Linked DNA regions of Homo sapiens: region 2 is reported to be linked to region 1. Evidence: microRNA targets listed by miRTarBase, many of them from high-throughput screens and not tested one by one. Region 1 holds a microRNA gene; the other region holds the end of a gene's coding sequence.
The links. The annotated mature microRNA hsa-miR-6882-3p reads UGCUGCCUCUCCUCUUGCCUGCAG and lies in region 1 at 1,439-1,462, opposite strand. An mRNA with a match to its seed (bases 2 to 7 or 8) in the 3' UTR can be bound and repressed. Matches are read on the target gene's strand: a 7mer-m8 pairs with bases 2 to 8, a 7mer-A1 pairs with bases 2 to 7 and ends in A, and an 8mer does both.

Region 2: miRTarBase lists RPL28 as a target of hsa-miR-6882-3p. Seed matches in the 3' UTR shown: 7mer-A1 at 751-757.

The regions. Positions count from the first base shown.
Region 1 is chr15:74,839,204-74,843,457 of GRCh38, forward strand. It overlaps MIR6882 (microRNA 6882), which reads right to left and starts at 1,504; the gene lies at 1,439-1,504. ULK3 (unc-51 like kinase 3) reads right to left here and starts at 3,953. Exons shown (of 16, transcript NM_001099436.4): 1 at 3,801-3,953; 2 at 3,077-3,217; 3 at 2,872-2,992; 4 at 2,202-2,306; 5 at 1,295-1,438; 6 at 1,031-1,113; 7 at 355-510; 8 at 65-170. The coding sequence starts at 3,902. RefSeq lists silencers at 323-470, 3,715-4,254 and enhancers at 2,947-3,472, 3,541-4,254.
Region 2 is chr19:55,387,698-55,391,951 of GRCh38, reverse strand. It overlaps RPL28 (ribosomal protein L28), which reads right to left. Exons shown (of 5, transcript NM_000991.5): 4 at 3,904-4,022; 5 at 1-3,709. The coding sequence ends at 3,620. MIR6805 (microRNA 6805) reads right to left here and starts at 3,771; the gene lies at 3,710-3,771.

The sequences.
Region 1 (4,254 bases):
TGCAGCCACAGATGACTCCCATCCCTGCTGCACCCACGGGCTTCAGGCATGGCCTGGGACTCACAGTGCAGGGCAGGTACAAAGAAGTCCAGAGCCTTGCAGTAGAGTGATAAGGCAGCTGCTGAATCCCCCTCCTGGTCTTTCTTCACAGCCTGCACCACCAGGGCGGTCTGGGGATGGGCAGATCAGGGGTCAGGTCCACCTCCCTACCCTCCCACACTCACCAAGATGGGAGATCAGCTCCCCTGAGCCCGCCCTCTGTCTCTGTTGGGTGAGTCACCAATTCACCACCAACGGGGGCAAGGAGACCTCCAGCCCACCCTCAGCCCACCCCAGCCCCAGCCGTCTGCTCACTGCTCGCCCCAGACTCTCCCCACTGGGCATGTGCTCCAGGTCCACCCAGGGGTGCGCAAAAAAGTCCTGGAAGGAGATGCGACGGCTGGGGTCCCGCTCCAGGAGCCGCTGCAGTAGGTCCCGGCAGTCTCGGGAGAGCAGGGGCCGCAAGGGGAGCTGCAGGGAAGGGAACGGCAGGGACAGATCACACTGGGCTCCTCCACCCCTACCCCTAGCCCAGGGGTCTGCGAGGAACCCCAGAGGTACGCGTTGGACAGGTGGGGAATCTGAGACCGAGGAGGAACAGGATGGGTCAGGATGATGGAGCCAGCGGGGAGCGAGGCCTCCATCCCTGGGCTCCCGGTGCACCCTCGCTGGAGCCCTGAGCTGAGCTAGAATCGTGTTTCTGGGTCCTTATTTCCCTCCCTGGACTATGCTCCTAGGAAGGCTGGGCCTGGCTCTGCTTTGCATTCTCCCCACAAGGGCCTGCAAAATGGGCACTGTGCTGCCAGCTGTGGGCTGACCTGAGGCCCTGGGACAGCCTGGCACCTCGACTTCCAGCCTAGAACCTGCCCCTCCACCACAAAGGCAGCCTGGAGCCCATACTCCAGTCTCTGCAGGTCAGAACGAGGTCTAAACCCTCAGGGCCCTGACTCCCTCTGCCCCCCAGTGGTCGCTAAGGCCCTGCTAGACACACCTCGATGACCCGGTTGCTACGGATCTTCTCTTCCAGCTCCGAGAACGACCTGGAGGCAAAGGGGGGCTGCCCGAAGAGGGCTTCTGTGGAAGGGAGGCAGAGCGGAGGCTGGGAGGGAATGGGTCAAGCCTGGCCTGACGCCCCTCAGCAGGGGCCCTGGGCCAGCAGTCAGTTTTCATCAGAACCCTTCAGAAGTGGCCCAGAGAGGCCTTGCCTGAGGAAACTGTAGGCCTCAGGGTGAGAAGCAGGGAAAAGAGGTCTCACCATACAGGATGACCCCCATGGACCAGAGGTCCACGCGGGCGTCATACTGCCGCTGGCACACCATCTCGGGGGCCATGTAGAGGGGGGAGCCACGGAGCACGTGCTTCTCATCCCACGGGGACATGTGTTGTGCGAAACCAAAGTCTGCAGGCAAGAGGAGAGGCAGCAGGGCTTGAATTCCAGCTGCTTCAGCTCCTGACTTGTAAAGCCTCACCCCAGGCTCCTCTCCACCCTCCAGACCCGCCAGGATCAACCCTATTTCCAAGCCTCTGCTCATCATTAGGCTGGAACACCCTCCTATATCTGCCTCTGGGGTATAAAACCTACCCATCCTTCCCAGCTCCCTTGGGCACCTTTTCCTAGGAAGCCCACCTGATCACACCAGCTACCTGCATAAGCCCCCACCCTCTCACTGTCCCCCCAGGCTTAGGTTCTATCACAGTCTCTGGCCTCCAGTGTCAATTATCCAAATCTTATCAAGGGTCACCACCTCCTACTCCCCCACCACACCCCTCCTATGTGGCCACAGATGGAGTCACAGACTTGAGCCCCAATTCTGATGACAGACCAAGTCCTGTCCCTGCCCACAGAGGGATCCCTGATGCTTGTCACACGCTGAACCCTGGCACTGTTCCCAGATTGACCCCTAAACCTGGACACACAGTGAGTCCCAACTCTGGCCACAGACTGAGCCCTAACTCCACCCATTATGCTGCTGGACTTGAGCATGGGTAGCCTGAGAAAGCTTCCACCTTTTGATGACAGGGCCCAACCCCAGACTTCACGGCCTGTCACTCTTTGAGGACTCTATAGAGGGCTCCATAAGAACCAGGGCTGCTGAGTGAGCCCAGGCAGAGGGAGGCCTCTGCACTCTCCAAACCTCATCCCTGCTGTTTCAGACACAGACCTGCCAGTTTTAGGTGGGGCTTCTCCAAGGAGCTCAGTAGAATGTTCTGTGGCTTCAGATCCAGGTGAGAGATATTCCGTTCATGCAGGAATTGCAGGGCGCTAGCTGAGGAGCAGGACCCACGAAGAGAGACAGTTCAGAGCCCATTCCCGCCTGCCTCTCGCCTCCCCGGCTCACATCTGCCTCCTCAAGCCTGCACAACCCCAGTTCCTGCCTGGCTGGTCTAATGTTTTCCATATAAGCACCAAGATCACACCACTTCTAGGAGTTTGCCACCCCACCCGAGTGCCCACCCTCCTTCCCTCTGCCCCTTCACAAGTCTCCCCACCTCTCAGAAGCTTCTCTGGATGCCCCAGCCCTTGAGATCCTGCTCTTTTCCTTGGCACAGCACTTGAGTCCTACCTACAGGACTCTGGAATGTTCTACAAGGTCCTTATATTATGTTCTATGTATGGAAGCCTGAACACCCCACAGAGGGGTTACCCCCTCATCTCTCCCACAGCGTCCTTGAGCAAGGGTTGAGTGTATGAGATAAACAGGACCATAAAATTTCAGGCTGTGCAGGAGGCAGCTGCAATGCGTGCCAAGGCTCTAAGCCTGGGGGAGGGGTGGGATGGTGGGGGGCAGAGAACAAGGGACAGAGTGTCAGGCTGGTGTCACAGGCCTTTACCTAATTGCTGCATGAAGACACGCGCCACCTTCTCAGGCAGAATCCTGCGGGTATGGATGAAGCGAGACAGGTCGCCCCCTGCGCAAAACTCCATGATGAGGTAGATATTGTCACTGTCCCACTGTGTTTAGAGGCAGAGAGGCGGCCTGAAGAGAGTGTCCCTTCTCCAGCTCCCTTTGGCAGCGGCCCCGCCCCAGGCTCACACCTGAAAGTCTTTCAGCTGCACAATGTGGGGATGTCGAATGCCCTTGAGGATCTCAATCTCCGTGAGGAGGTTCTCCACCGATGCCTTGTTCAGACTTTTCTTGGCTACACACTTTATGGCTACCACTTCACGAGTGTCCTTCTGCGAGACAGGAGATTTGGGGACTCTGCCTTGAGGGGGCCAGGACCCTTGTCTGACTGGAAAGGCTCTATCTGGTTCCCTCTGTTCCCCCACCCCGCCCCTCCCCGGGTCTACCTACTGCACACCAGCACCGGGCTTCCCAGCTTTCCCTTGTGAGGCCAGTGAGGAATGCTGATTCTGGAATCCTGGCTTCCCGACACAGCCTCAGCCTGGTCTTCTCCAACCCTCGGCTAGCTGATCCATTTCTTTGCATTCTGGAGTGCTCCCGGCAGAGGCATGTCACTCAGGGTTCTAGAACCGCCCACTCTGCCTCCCAACTGGCTCCAGTCCCAGACTCCTCCCAGCCCACCAGGTAACCTGTTTTGAGCCTGTTCTTCAGCCACTGACCCTGCAGGTGGGTGCAGGTGCGCTCTTTAAGACCTAAGCGTGGCAGTCGGCTCCAACCTCCGCCGAGGGTCAGCTGGGGCGAGGCCGGCCTCCCGCCCCTAACTATTCCCACACTGTCGCTAACCTCTCAGAGTCTCCCCGGCCGGCACCAGCCGAGCTAGCTCGGGCGGGCACGGGGCCATCGGCCGGCACCCACCTTGGCGTAGGCCTTGTACACCGTGGCGTACGTGCCGCTGCCCAGGCGCTCGGTGAGGATGAAGCCGTCCAGGCGCGGGGGACCCCAGCCGGGCCCCGCCATTCCGGCCGCCTGCGCCCGCGCGGGCGCTTCCTCGCTGCGGGCGGCGGTTCCGGCGGGTTGCGGGGCGGGCCGAGCACTGGGTGGCTCCACGCTGCCCCCAGCGCCGCCCGCCGGAAATGCAGCGCGCATCGGGGACGCGGATCCGCCCGGCTCCCGGCGCCCCTCCCCTGTCTCTGGGCCTCGCCGGGTCACGCGCCCCGCCAGTTCCTGCAGGGCCCACGTGGGGATACGGAGGCCCCGCGAGCCTAGAAGTTAACAACGGAGGACGGCCGGCGTGGTCTCCGGGGACTCCTAGCGGGCGCAGAGGCGTCTAGAGATCGCCCACGTGAGGGCGCGGGCGGCGGAGCGGGCG
Region 2 (4,254 bases), not on the chromosome of region 1:
GGAGGCTGGGAAAGCTCACAGCCCCACAGGACGGCGGGGCAGACCTGGAGCCACCAGGCATTACTGCACATGGATCTGGCATGTCTTCCAGGTGCTTGGGAAACACGAGCATTAGTTTGTGTACAAATTAGTCATAGGCATGTGAAGACATCTGTGATCATGAGTCCATCTGATCAAAATATTTATAAAAAGTCATTAATTTATTCCTACAATCAGGATTTGTGGGCACAGTCAAGCAGGTTTTGCACATTTAATCTTCTCATCAACCCTGAGTAGTAGGGTCTATCGACACGCATGTTACAGATGAGGGTACGAAGACACAGAGAGGTTGAGGAACTTGCCCAAGGTTGCACAGCCACCGAGCAGCAGAGCCCTGACCCAGTAGATGCCAGCATGTCCTGTGAACAGAGGATGCCTCAGTCCCGAGTCTCTGCTGCTGTGGGGAGTCTGGAGTCCCCAGCGCTCTGCACAACTTTGGGCTTGGCAGCCTTCCAGGGTGCGCCCTACGCTCACTCACCATGCAGCTACTGGACTAAGAGCTGGAGAGACAGCAGTGAACACTGAGACACCTGCCTTATGCAGGGCTGTGAAAGGCACTCAAAATGGCCTTTTACATATGGGAAACTGAGGCACGGTGCTACTAAACGAGCTGCCCAAGTCCCCACAGCTGGGCATAACTGGCAGAGCTGGGACTGGAACCCAGGCAGTTTGATTCCTGGCTTCCGTGAACCATTAGCCCTGAGCTGGGAATGCTGCCGGGCATCACTCTTGGGGATAGGATGACCTGGGGGAGGTTCTTTCAGCACTCTGGATGTGTCCCCACTGCCTGGGCCTGGTTTCTGATGAGGGCAGCTACTAACTTTATCAGGGACCTTCTGTATGTGACAAGACGCTTTTCTTTTGTTCTCCCAATTTTGTCTTTGGCTTTCAGCATTTTTACTATGGTGAGCCTGCCTGTTTTCTTAATATCATGTTTTTGGTTTAACTGGTTTTCCAATTTCCAGGCCAACAGACATGATTTGTGTGAATAAAGCTGGAATAGATGGCCCCATCCAACATCTCTCTCTCCAAGATGAGGTCTAGAGGAGGGAAATGGTGTCTCCACGTTTGCTCAGCACACTGAGGACTCCAAACTCTGTGGGGCTGAGACCATCTCCCTCCCTCCAGCCCTCTCCTGGTTCCTCCACCCCAACCCACCGATAGCATTCAGATACCAGACGTGGCCTCCCCAGCCCAGCCACACAGACAGGCTGGCCACCCGCAGGAACAGAGGCCCACTAAGCTGGGCTGTGTTACGGATGAGACCAGGGGAGGCCACACAGCAGGGAGGATTCAGATAGGGATGGAGAAAGCCAGCAGGACTCCACAGGGGGTGGGGCCTAGAGGCACAAGCCTCCAGGGCAGGCAAGGAGGTGGTTAAGGACAAGGCCTTCTGAGCAGCAGCAGCCACATCAGAAAGCCTCGAGCGCCTGTAATGCCAGCACTTTGGGAGGCTGAGGCAGGTGGGTAATTTGAAGTCAGGAGTTCCAAACCAGCCTGGGCAAAATGGTGAAACCCCATCTCTGCTAAAAATACAATACTGAGCTGGGTGTGGTGACACCCACCTGTAATCCCAGCTACTCGGGAGGCTGAGGCAGGAGAATCGCTTGAACCCAGGAGGTGGAGGCTGCAGTGAGCCAAGATCGCGCCATTGCACTCGCCAGCCTGGGCAACAGAGCGAGACTCCATCTCCAGAAAGTCTCCAGTGAGCAAACTCTCAGGACCGGTGGGCTTTATACATTCAATATGCACCATTCATCAAGCATCTCATTATATGCTGGTGTGCTAGACAAACCCCTTGCCCACCAGCACAAGACAAACATGAGACAGATAAACCTGCCAGCTTGTGGGCTGCAAATCAGTGCTGTGGAGGACAACTGAAGCAGGTGCCAGGGGAGAGGCCTCACGAGAAGGGGCCATCTACTAACGTGAGCAGTGAGCTCTCCTTATGAAGGCGGAGTCCCAGCGCAGTGAGGCCAGCCAGAGATGGGCCTGAGTGGGACTGGGACAGTGGGGGCTCCTGAGCAGGTACGAAGTCACCAGCGGAGTGAGGCCAGCTGGAGGTGGGCCTGAGTGGGATTGGGACAGTGCGGGGGGTCCTGAGCAGGTACCAAGTCACCCAACTCAGTTTTAAGGCAACACCTCTCAATCTGAGCTAATAGACCCAACTAAGGGAAGGACAAAGGAAATGGTAATTCACAGCAGACAGGGGCTGGCAAGTGGTCAGATCTGCTCTCCTTCGAGCTGGGCAAGACTGGAGCAGACAGGACTGAGGTCGGAAGGGCAGTGGTCTGCCTCAAAACGCAGGGCTCCCAGCCCCGTACGACCCCAACCAATGGCAAGTCGAGGCCCTGACAGTCCCCTTACTCTCAGTCAGAGCCGGGGGTGGTCTCAGACAGGGAGCAGAGTCCTTCTTTGAATCGGGTACCCCAGGATGGCAGGAACCAGGGGTGCCATGGATGCTGGATCCTTGGTCCCTGGCAGTGGCTGACAGAGTTAGGTGCCCAGGAAACATGTGAGGATCAACAGCAGGACTCTTTCCCCATCCAGGCCTCACTGTGTGTCATGGTGTCTTCCAGGCTGGAGTGTAGTGGTGGGGCTCATGGGCTCACTGCAGCCTCATACTCTTGGCTCAAGTGCTCCGCTCACCTCAGCCTCTACTCAACCTCTGAGGAGCTGGGACCACAGGCGGTGCACCACCACACCCAGCTAATTTTATTTTAGAGACGGTGTCTCATTATGTTGCCTAGGATGGTCTCAAACTCCTGGCCTCACAAGCTGTAATAAACACTAGGGAGCAAACAGGCCAAAGGAAACAAGAGGGCTGGGCAATCAGGAAAGCTTGGGTGACAGGGTGGCCCAGGAGCGGCCACTGAGATGAGACCTAAGTGACAAGAGCCAGCTCAAAGAGACAGGGGAGGGATGGGGACACCTGGAGGACGGGAGTAGGGGGACAATGCTAAGGCTGCTCAATGCCTGCTGGCTGTACCCTGGGGCTGCCATCTCCCTTACAGTTATAAGCCACCACCCACCAAGTTGCCCATCTCAGAGATGAGGTTGCATCAAGTAAAGCCCATCCCCTCCAAATGTGGCTGCACCCACTCCCTGGATGCAAAAGTCATCTCATCTTCCTCCCGTGATGTCTGTCGTCCCCCAGGTCTTGGGAACACCCCAAGTCCCCAAACCGTGCTACAGCACCAGGGCCCAGGGCCCAGCCCTCAGCCTGCACCCTTCTGGGCTAGAAAAGGCCTTTCTTCTTCTGAATGGAAGCCACTGCCCCAGCTGGGATTCTTCAGGCCACCTCACAATGGGACAGTAGGTCTCAATCACAAGTCAGCAAACTTTTTCTGTGAAGACAGTGACCCTTGCCCTCACCAGGGACAAGGCAGCTACCCCACCCCTCCTGCATGGCCAGCCATTGACATCACCTCCAGATGGACAAGGTGACATGCAGAGTTTTGATGACATGGCCTGAATGACAACACACAGGGCCAGAGCTCCCCAGAGCGTTTCAAAAAGGGAGGCCCAGTCGAGGCAGGTGAGAAAGCCAGCTGACTTTATTGCTCTGGGGGCAGGGGGCTCAGGAGCTCTTGGTGGGGCGGGTCCGCTTCCTCTTCACCATCACAGGCTTCTGGCTGCGCAGGATGGCGCTGGCCCTGCGGATGGCTGCCTGGGGGCGGGGGAGCAGAGCAAGGCTCAGCCCATACACTCCACAAGCCGCCCCCTAGGCCAATGCTGGGTGTGGGGAGTAGGCTGAAAGCAAGAATCCATCCCTCTCCAGCCCATATTGCAACCAGTAGTGGGAGGCCCTTCCCCACAGCACTGGCCAGTCTCCCCAAGCCTGATCCCCAAACCCCAGCTCACCATGCGCAGGTCGGGGCGGTACTTGTTCTTGCGGATCATGTGTCTGATGCTGCTGAGCGTGGCGCGAGCATTCTTGTTGATGGTGGTCCGCACATAGGAGGTGGCAGGCTTCCGCTGGCCTGGTTGGGGGTCAGGGAGGTCCTGGGGTCAGTCCACCTAACCTGCACCTTTAGCACACCTCGCAGGTGTGGACAGTCTCACATTGAGAAGCTGAGCAGCGTGGGCCCGTGGCGGGTGCCTGGGCAGGCCAGCAGGTAGCTGTTTTCCCACCTGTCCATTTCACAGAGGCTCACTCGTCATCACGGAGTACTGAGGACACAGCTTCTGCCACACTCATAGCCCAATTCTGTC